Regions from separate parts of the Homo sapiens genome. Here region 2 is linked to region 1. Evidence: fine-mapped expression QTL. A gene starts in region 1. The other region holds a variant in brackets. All regions are shown on one strand. Distances are between the middles of the regions. Region 1 holds the start of ZNF77 (zinc finger protein 77). Region 2 has its middle 14 kb from the start of MKNK2.

Region 1 (5,369 bases):
AAAGTGCTGGGATTACAGGCGTGAGCCACCGCGCCCGGCCTATTTATGTGTTTCTTAATGATGTAAGGTGAAAAGCTGTGCTACTGTTTACTTCTTCAGGGACTCTGATAATAGGCATGTTTTTCTTTCCTGTCTTTTGTTCCCACTGCTTCCTCTCTGACAGTTATTCCACTGTTTCCTATCACTTCCAATTTCTTTGTAGTTTCCTTGCCTCTTATCTTTGACACAATGTGAGTATCCTAAGCTTCATTAATATCCATTGATGAAGGCTGAGGCAAGCGGATCACTTGAGGTCAGGAGTTCCAGACCAACTTGGCCAGCATGGTGAAACCCCATCTCTACCAAAAAATACAAAAATCTGCCAGGCATGGTGGTGCAACATAAGACAAGCTTTGAGTAGCAAAAGATTGGAAACAAGTCCACTGTCTATTTAGAGAGACCTTGTTACATCAGCTTACATCATCTTACATCTGTAAGGAGTAAGGAAGTCACCTATTAAGATGAAGAGAGGTGGAGGATTTATTTTTTTCATTGAGCCACAAAAACAATTGTAATGCAATGTGTACACCATGGTACTTTTTAAAAATAATAAAGCGGGGGGAAACAAAACGTGTCGTTCAAATGGCGTTTTTTTGTTTGTTTTTGTTTTGAGATGGAGTCTCGCTCTGTCACCCAGGCGGAGTGCAGTGGTGCGATCTTGGGTCTGCAATCCCCGCCTCCCGGGCTCTAGTGATTCTCCTGCCTCAGCCTCCCAAGTAGTTGGGATTACAGGCATGTGCCACCACGCCCGGCTAATTTTTATATTTTTAGTAGAGACAAGGGTTTTGCCATGTTGGCCAGGCTGGTCTCGAACTCTTGACCTCAGGTGATCCACCTGCCTCAGCCTCCCAAAGTGCTGGGATTATAGGCGTGAGCCACTGCGCCCGGCCCTAGAGAATTTCTTAAAGTAAAAGGCTGTACTGTTCCTATGGTAATTGAATTCTTATTTTAACTCATTTGAGAAAATAATCATAGAAGTTTAAATAAATTTGAACTCGACGTGAAAATTCTGAATACTTTTATTCAGTTGAGCCGCAATTCCTAAAGCCTGGAACGCGACTGCTCATCTCCGAAAAGACTTTCCAGCTTGAGACAGAGTAGAAGTATAAACTCTATATCGCTTGCCATTTTACATACAAACATAATTGTCGTAATTCATGTTTTTACTGTGTCGACCTAAATAACAGGCTGTCTAAAAACGGTGGTAACAGTTCATTGCAGTGGGAATATGCGCGGCATAGCAAACTATGTGCTTATTCAGGGAGGTAAAGGAAGACAAAGGTTGTTTTTGGTTTTCATTTTTTTGAGACGGGGGTCTCTGTTGCCCAGGCTGGAGTACAATGGTGAGATCACAGCTCACTGCAGCCTCAATCCCCACGGGCTCGAGCGATCCTCCTGCTTCAGCCTATCAAGTCGTTGGGACCATAGGCGCACACTCCTTTATTCCCAGCTAATTTTTGTATTTTTTGTATATATGGGGTTTTGCCATGTTGCCCAGACTGGGACAAAGGTTTATAAAGGAAAAAAAAAATTTTAAATGAGGATTACATCATTTTTCAGAAATAATTATCCTTGTCTACAAAGATCAGTAACAAGGGTCACACCAGTCTGAGTGTCCCTGTAAAAGTATTTTTTGTTTAAGCCTGTGGTTTTTGTAGAGTCTTTTTCGTTATTAAGCATATAAATGTGAGACCTCTCTCTTCATGACCTTACGTGGTTCTGTTTGTGGGAGGGCTGCTTTTTTTTTTTTTGAGACTCAGTTTCGCTCTTGTTGCCCAGGCTGGAGTGCAGTGTCCTGATCTTGGCTCACTGCAATCTCCGCCTCCTGGGTTCAAGCGATTCTCCTGCCTCAGCCTCCGGAGTAGCTGGGATTACAGGCGCCCGCCACCGTGCCCAGCTAATTTTTGTATTTTTAGGAGAGAAGTGGTTTTCGCCATTTTGGTCAGGCTGGACTTGAACTCCTGACCTCTGATGATCCGCCGGTCTCCGCCTCTCACGGTGCTGGGATTACCGGCGTGAACCACCGCGCCCGGCCGAGAGTTTTAAGAACACAGGGAGCGCCTGGTGGGGTCCGGCCTCCTGGGGCCTCGTCGTCTGGTCTCCAGATCTCCAGGTCTCTGGACCCCAGGCGTCCGCGCCCACGCGGGACAGCACGGTGACGTCACGCACGCGGGTCCCGCCCCCACGCAGGACTCCGCCCCATGGGACTCCGTGCCCTTCCTCTCCTCCCCGCACGAGGGGCCGCTCCGAGGGGAAACTGAGTCTGGAGTTGCCGTGCAGTCAGGGAGGAGGACGCCGCGCCCTCCCTGGACTGGAGTGAGTTCTCCCAGATCCGCGGCTGCCCGGCTAGAGGGTCAGCCACGCGTGTTCTCGACGAGCCCGTCACTGAGGAGAGAATTATCCAATCAGGACAGGCAGGGGCGGGGCCTAGGGAACTGTCCAATCAGAGACGTTAATCCGAAGCGGAGCCCTGCCCAATCAAGGGCGCTAGGGGGACGGACTGGAGAATTCTCCAATCAGGGGTGCGGAGTCGACAGCACTGTCCAATCAGAGTCTCCACTTCCCGAGATCTGTCCAATCAGACCCCGAGGACGGTAAGCCGAGTTCCCCTCTGCCTTGCGCGCTTCCCCGCCTACCCCGAGCGGCTCAGGTGTCCTGTCGTGCTCACCTGCGCCGGTCGCTGGACCGCGGGGCGCTAACCCTGGAGAGCCCAGGAGCGGGCGGGACATGGTGAGTGCCGGGCGGGAGCCGAGCCCGGGCCCAGGGCGAGGTGGGGCGGCAGGAACCGGCTTCCGCCCGAGTTCGCAGCCGGAGAAAGCTGAGGGACGCGCGGGGCGGCGCACGACGAGCGCCTGGGCCCCGGGGACGTGGTCACAGCGGCCGAGGGGTAGGGCTGGGGGCAGTCTGGGGTGACAGCAAAAGCGGTCAGGGGCTCGAGGGGTAGTTTCTGGGGACAGTACAGGTCAGGAGTTTGGGGAGAGCTTGTGGGGACAGCAGAGGTGGTCAGGGGCTTGAGGCAATTTAAGTGGACAGTAGAGGTTTAAGGGGCACAGGGGCAGTTTGCGGGAACAGACACGGTCAGGGGCTCGGCGGCAGTTTGGGGGTTCAGTGGAAGGGAGTCAGGCTCAAGGGCAGATTAGGGGGCCAATAGCAGCGGTCAGGAACTCGGGGACAGTTTGAGGGGGCCGTAGAGGCGGTCATGGGTTTGAAGGGGCAGTTTTGGGGGACAGGTGATCAGGGGCTCGAAGGCAGTTTAGGGGGACAGTAGCTGCAGTCGGGAGTTTGGGGGCAGCTCGAGGGGACAGCAGAAGCAGTCAGGGGCTCAGGGGCACTTTAAGGGGGGCAGTAGAGGCGATCAGGGGCTTGAGGGAAGTTTGGGGGGACAGTAAAGGGAGTCGGGCTCGAGGGATGTGTTGGGGGACAGTAGAGGCAGTCAGGGGATCGGGGAGAGTGGGAGGAGAGGGCAGGAGCCGTCAGGGGCTTGGTGGTCAGTTTGGGAAGGTCTGCCAAGGAGGAGGTGGTGCCCTGTCCTGGAGCCTGTCAAATAATAAAATCCTGGGCCGGGCGCGGTGGCTCACGCCTGTAATCCCAGCACTTTGGGAGGCCGAGGCGGGCGGATCACCTGAGGTCAGGAGTTCCAGACCAGCCTGGACAACATGGCGAAATCCCGTCTCTACTAAAAATACAAAAATTAGCCCGGCGTGGTGGCGGGCGCCTGCAATCCCAGCTACCAGGGAGGCTGAGACAGGAGAATGGCGTGAACCTGGGAGGTGGAGCTTGCAGTGAGCCGACATGGCGCCGCTGCACTCCAGCCTGGCGACAGAGAAAGACTCCGTCTCAAAAACAAAAACCAAAAAAAAAAAAAAAAAAAAAAATCCTGGCTAGAGAAGGAGAGAGAAAAATAGGGATAAGCCCCAGCCTCCGAAACCTGCCAGGTCTCAAAATCAACCAGGAAAAGGCTTTACTTTCATACACAAGAAAAGGTTTGGAGGAACGTTTTAGGGGACAAGCAGAAAGGAGGTTGACAGTAAATGTACCTCCTCGTGGTCAGCTAGCTCAGGGGAGGTGACAGGGGACTCCACACTTACTGCTTGCTCAGACTCGGGGGGGCCAAAGTTCAGGGGCCTGCGGAGAGGACAGAAGGCTGAGTAAAGTTTGGGGAAGAAACGGGAGGCTGCGAACATGTGGTCAAGCTTGTGTAAACCCAAACGTAGTAAGGAAACTTTTATGAAAAAGGATTATTGCGAGGTATTGGGGGAGGGGGAGAAGGGGCTGTTGCAATAGGGAGAAGGGTTAGTTGGATTAGAGGCAGGAGAGTAATGCCAGAGGCTTGAGGTTCTATTGCAGTGGGGTGGGGGTATAAGCAACAGGGGCATGGGGACAGTTGATGATTGAGCTGCGGGACTAATGCTGTAGCCACAGGGAGACAGCTGCAGGGGGAGAGCTCTGTGACCGTCAAGTATGCAGGCATCTGAAGAGTTGGCTAGGCCTGGCGCGGTGGCTCATGCCTGTACTCCCAGCACTTTGGGAGGCTGAGGCAGGTGGATCACCTGAGGTCAGGAGTTCAAGACCAGCCTGGCCAACATGGTGAAATCCCATCTCTACTAAAAAATACAAAAATTAGCCGGGCGTGGTAGTGTGTGCCTGTAATCCCAGCTACTTGGAAGGCTGAGGCAGGGAGAATTGCTTGAACTCGGGAGGCAGAGGTTGCAGTGAGCCATGATCACACCACTGCACTCCAGCCTGGGCACACCTAACCTAGTGAATCATTTCTGATGACAAAGAATGGGATTTCGGAGGGTCTGAATCTGGCCTTGTCATCTGCGTGAATCTTATCTAAGTCGTATGGGAAGGGAGGGTCCTGGCTGTCCCAATTCCAGAGCACAGCAGGACGGGGTTTCACCTTTGCTGGTTTCCAGGAGCACAGAGCTGAAGTCAGTTCAACATTGTCACCTGACAGCTGCGAACAGCCTCGTCTGTGTCCAGCTCAGCATTGGTATTGTTCCTATTTCAGCCCCAGGTTTTAGTAAATGTAAAATAATGAGGCCGGGCATGGGGATGCGCACCTGTGGTCCCAGCCACTTGAGAGGCTGAGGGGGGAGAATCGCTTGAGCCCACGAGTTTGAGGCTGTACCACTCCACTCCAGCCTGGGCAACAGAGCTAGACCCTGTCTGGAAAAAAAAAAAAAAAAAAAAAGAGCCGGGCGCGGTGGCTCACACCTGTAATCCTAGCACTTTGAGTGGCTGAGGTGGGCGGATCACAAGGTCAGGAATTCAAGACCACCCTGATTGACATGGGGAAACCCCGTCTCTACTAAAAATATCAAAAT
Region 2 (5,369 bases), 880 kb after region 1:
CCTAGGCTGGAGTGCAGTGGCACAAATCACAGCTCACTGCAGCCTCAACTTCCTGGGCTCAAGCAATCCTCCCGCCTCAGCCTCCTGAGTAGCTGGGCCTACAGGCATGTGCCTCCATGCCTAGCTGATTGTGTTTCTTTTTTGTAGAGATGAAGTCTCCCTACATTGCTCAGGCTGATCTTGGACTCCTGGCCTCAAGCGATCCTCCCTCTTTGGCCTCCCAAAGTGCTGGGATTGTAGATGTGAGCCATTGTTCCCAGCCAGCATAATTATATCAAATAAAGCAAACCAGGAGGAAAAAGCAATTGCAATCCTTTTTTTTTTTTTTTTTTTTTTTTGAGACAGAGTCTCGCTCTGTCGCCCAGGCTGGAGTGCAGTGGCGTCATCTCGGCTCACTGCAACCTCCGCCTCCCAGGTTCAAGCAATTCTCCTGCCTCAGCCTCCTGAGTAGCTGGGATTACAGGCACCTGCCACCACCCCCGGCTAATTTTTGTATTTTTAGTAGAGACAGGGTTTCACCATGTTGGTCAGGCTGGTCTCGAACACCTGGCCTTGTGATCCACCTGCCTCGGCCTCCCAAAGTGCTGGGATTACAGGTGTGAGCCACTGCGCCGGGCCTTTCTTTTTTTTTTTTCTTTTTTTTTTTTTTTGAGACAGAGTCTCACTCTTTCACCCAGGCTGGAGTGCAGTGAAACAATCTTGGCTCACTGCAACCTCTGCGTCCTGTGTTCAAGCGATTCTTCTGCCTCAGCCTCCCAAGTAGCTGGGACTACCAGCACCCGCCACCACATCCAGCTAATTTTTTTGTATTTTTAGTAGAGACGGGGTTTCACCATCTTGGCCAGGCTGGTTTTGAACTCCTGACCTTGTGATCTACCAGCCTCAACTCCCAAAGTGCTGGGATTACAGACATGAGCCTCCACACCTGGCCAGCAATTGCAGTCTTAATGATCAAGGTGAATCCAAATGTATATGGGACAGGCTGGGCACGGTGGCTCACGCCTGTAATCCCAGAATTTTGGGAGGCCGAGACGGGCGGATCACAAGGTCAGGAGATCAAGACCATCCTGGCTAACAGAGTGAAACCCCGTCTCTACTAAAAATACAAAAAAAAAAAAAAAATTAATCCGGCATGAGGCGGAGCTTGCAGTGAGCTGAGATAGTGCCACTGCACTCTAGCCTGGGTGACAGAGCGAGACTCTGTCTCAAAAAAAAAAAAAAAGTATATGGGACAAAGTACACTCATTGTGACCAGAGGGAAAATGTACAGGAAAGATACGTTAGTCAGAAAACTTCATGTGCTGAAATACATTATATAAAATACAAATTAACATTTAAAAATCATGGTAAATGATTTAATAAACATTTTATGTATGTACTTATTTATTTTTTATTTTTTTTATTGAGACGGAGCAGGCTGGAGTTCAATGGCACGATCTTGGCTCACTGCAACCTCTGCCTCCCGGGTTCAAGCACTTCTCTACCTCAGCCTCCCGAGTAGCTGGGACTACAGGCGCCCACCACCACGCCTAGCTAATTTTTGCATTTTTAGTAGAGACGGGGTTTCACTATCTTGGCCAGGCTGGTCTTGAACTCCTGACCTTGTGTTCTGCGTCCCTTGGCCTCCCAAGGTGCTGGGATTACAGGCGTGAACCACCACGCCCGGCCTACTTACTTTTTGAGACAGAGCCTCTCTCTGTCACCCAGGCTGGAGTGCAATGGCGCCATCTCAGCTCACTGCAACTTCTGCCTCCTGGGTTCAAGCGATTCTCCTGCCTCACCCTCCTGAGTAGCTGGGATTACAGGCGTAAGCCACCACCCAGCTAATTTCTGTATTTTTAGTAGAGACTGGGTTTCGCCATGTTGACCAGGCTGGTCTTGAACTCCTGACCTCAGGTGATCTGCCCACCTTGGCCTCCCAAAGTGCTGGGATTACAGGCGTGAGCCACCGCACCCGGCCTGGGCATCTTCATTGATTTGTAATTCACATTCCATACAATTCACTCATTTAAGGTGTACAATTCAGTCGCATGTAGTACATTCAGAAAAGTGTGCAACTACCACCTCCAATTCTACAGCATTCTATCACCTCGAGAAGAACAAACCTTGTCCCCATCAGCCGTCACTCCCCGACACCCACACATCCCCTCCCTGTCTCTGGATGGGCCTGTCCCGGACAGTTCATAGAAATGGGATCACACACTGCGTGGCCTTCTGAGTTTGGCATCTGTGACTGAGCATGATGTCCTCCAGGTTCACGCTGTGGCCTGGCTCCGGTTCGTCATGGGATAATGTTCCAGTGTGGATGGACCATCCGTCCCCTCCTGCCGGGTGTTCAGGCCGTGCTGTCCTCTCGGCCACCAGGCATCAGGTGCCCATGTGCGCACACGGCCCGTGTCCCGCGTGGGTGTCTTGTGTGGCTGCTGTTTATGCTCTGTCTCTGCTGACCTTCTGGTGCCACCGCCTGGTGGCCGCCCCGGAGGCGTGGCCCACGTTCCTCGATATTTCTGGAGCTGTCTGCCCTTCTTTCCAAGCCAGAGAAGCAGATGGGAAACAAAAGCAGCTGCCCGCCCTCCTTGTCCCCGCCACAGGCCTACGCATCACTGGATGGGATCCTGCTCCCGGGAAGGCCGGCAGGAGAACGGCTCCGTCTGTCTGGCCTGGAAAGCAGCTCCCGCGCTGCCCCACCCGCCGCCAGGCCACTGCGTCCTCGTGGCTCTGCTGCCGGCCTCAGGGATCCCCCTGAGTTCTGACTGCAGGCAGAGGATGGACCTGCCTTTTCGGGCAGGTGACCCATGGCGCTCTCCTACTTTGTGGGAAAGAGGGACATGGAGTCAGGTGTGACTCCCTGGACCCCTCAGGCCAGGCCCCCAGCACTGATTCACCAAATAACTGGAAACTGCTTCTTGTCAGACACAGGCTGTGGCCCTGGTCCTGACCTCAGCGTGTCATCAACAGAAGGCTGACTGAGGCCCCTTGGCAAGGTCCCTGGTAGGTCGCGTCGCCAGGAGGTGGATGCCAGCCCCGGCTCACCACAGCCGCCCCTCCTGTTTCTCTCCACCTGCAGCCAGTGTCCTGGCGTCCTGGAAGCAACCTCCCCTGCCTGCTCCTCCCGCTTGGCCG[C/T]GGGGCCACAGGGCGCTATGACTGTGCAGGAGGCCTCAGAAGGACGGGCAATTTTTAAGATTCTATTTTTATTATTTTATTTTATTTTTGAGACGGAGTCTCGCTCCATCACCCAGGCTGGAGTGCAGTGGCGCGATCTCGGCTCACTGCAACCACCGCCTCCTGGGTTCAGGTGATTCTCCTGCCTCAGCCTCCTGAGTAGTTGGGATTACAGGCGCGTGCCACCACACCCGGCTAATATTTATATTTTTAGTAGAGATGGGGTTTGGCCACGTTGGCCATGTTGTGCCCAGCCAATGTCATCTGTTTCTTTTTACTTTTTAAAATATGTGGGTCTTGAACATTTACACACGTGTTGGTCAACATCCAGGTGAGAAAAGACGGAACACACAAGCTGTCAGGGAAATGCAAATCAAAACCATCGCCAAGATGATGTCACTCAGAAACGACAATAGCGGCCGGCACAGTGGCTCAGGCCTGTGATCCCAGTACTTTGGGAGGCTGAGATGGGCAGATCAGCTGAGGTCAGGAGTTCAAGACCAGCCTGACCAACAAGGTTAAACTCCGTCACTACTAAAAAATACAAAAATTACATGGGGATGGAGGCACTCTCCTGTAATCCCAGCTACTCAGGAGGCCGAGGTGGGAGGATTGCGTTAGCCCAGGAAGTCGAGGGTGCAGTGAGCCGAGATCAGGCCACTGAACTTAAGCTTGGGTAACAGAGCAAGACCCTGTCTCAAAAAAAATAAAATAAAGCTGGGTGCTGTGGCTCACACCTGTAATCTCAGCATTTTGGGAAGCTGAGACCAGTGGATCACTTGAGATCAGGAGTTCAAGAGCAGCCTGGCCAACATGGTGAAACCCCGTCTCTACTAAAAATACAAAAATTAGGGAGGTCGAGATGAGCAGATCACCTGAGATCAGGAGTTCGAGACCAGCCTTTCACATGGTGAAACGCTGTCTCTACTAAAAATTCAAAAATTAGCTGGACGTGGTGGCGGGCACCTGTAATCCCAGTTACTCGGGAGGCTGAGGCAAGAGAATTGCTTGAACCCGGGAGGTGGAGGTTGCAGTGAGCCAAGATCGCACCATTGCACTACAGCCTGGGTGACAAGAGTGAAACTTCGTCTCAAAAAATAAATAGGCCAGGCGCGGTGACTCACGCCTGTAATCCCAGCTACTCGGGAGGCTGAGGGAGGAGAATGGCGTGAACCCGGGAGACGGAGCTTGCAGTGAGCCGAGATCGCGCCACTGCACTCCGGCCTGGGCGAAAGAGCGAGACTCCGTCTCAAAAAAATAAAAAATAAAAACAAATAAATACAAAAATTAGCTGGGTGTGGCGGTGCACACCTGTAATCCTAGCTACTCAGGAGGCTGAGACAGTTGAATCACTTGAACCCAGGAGGCAGAGGTTGCAGTGAGCTGAGATTGCACCTCTGCGCTCCAGCCCAGGCGACAGAGTGAGTCTCCGTCTCCAAAACAAATTAGCTGGGTGTCTCCGTGCAGCTACTGGGGAAGCTGAAGCACAAGACTGCCTGAACCCGGAGAGAGATTGCAGTGAGCTGAGATCGTGCCACTCCACTCCAGCCTGGGCCACAGAGTGAGGCTGCGTGTGTATTTCTATAATGAAGAAAACTATTGCGGAAAAAAAAGTCAAAGAGAAATGCAGACCTTTAAAAGGTCTCTCCTGAGAGAAGCAGGAATGAGGAACTCGTAGGGTCCTGGGCTGGCCGCAGACAGGAGACCCCAAGGTCCCAGCAGGAGGGCGGTACATGGTGAAGATGGGATCCTTGGGGGAAGCCTGAGACACTCTGTGGTCGGCTGAATCACAGCCCCCAAAGATGCCCATGTCATTCCCGCGATCTGTGAATGTACCACTTCCCATGGCCAAAGGGGCCACCCCCATTCTTCTAGGCTAGCCTCGGCAGGGGTGCCGGGCCTCCAGCCTATCCATGCCCTGAGGGCTGCCACTGGGACACTCCAGACTTGGGACGTAGAGGGTGCCAGATGGGTGGGTTGGTGGGGTCACCTCCCCTGCTGTCTACACCGTGGGTCCTTCAATCTCGTTTCCTGCCCCTCACTTGTGATTCATTGATCAGGGCTACAGTGGAGAGTGAGGCCTGCCTGGGGTGAGGGGTTGTGGCTGTGGCCGCTGGGGGTCAGATTCTGACCACCTGCCTCTGTGCTTTCACTCAGTTGCACAGCGCCCGGGACCTGGAGGACCTGGGGGACCAACCCTCCCACCC

Evidence for each region. PIP is the estimated chance that this variant, and not a neighbour inherited with it, causes the effect.
Region 2: its variant is fine-mapped to the expression of ZNF77 in spinal cord (GTEx, PIP 0.93).

Annotation. Positions count from the first base shown.
Region 1 is chr19:2,942,238-2,947,606 of GRCh38, reverse strand. ZNF77 (zinc finger protein 77) reads left to right here and starts at 2,636. Exons shown (of 4, transcript NM_021217.3): 1 at 2,636-2,769. The coding sequence starts at 2,767. RefSeq lists an enhancer at 2,241-2,400 and silencers at 2,471-2,720, 2,861-2,940.
Region 2 is chr19:2,062,213-2,067,581 of GRCh38, reverse strand. No RefSeq gene overlaps it. Among named protein-coding and RNA genes, the nearest start is that of MKNK2, 14 kb to the right of the region's middle. RefSeq lists an enhancer at 4,730-5,369. The variant C/T (reference allele first, on the strand shown) is at 3,124.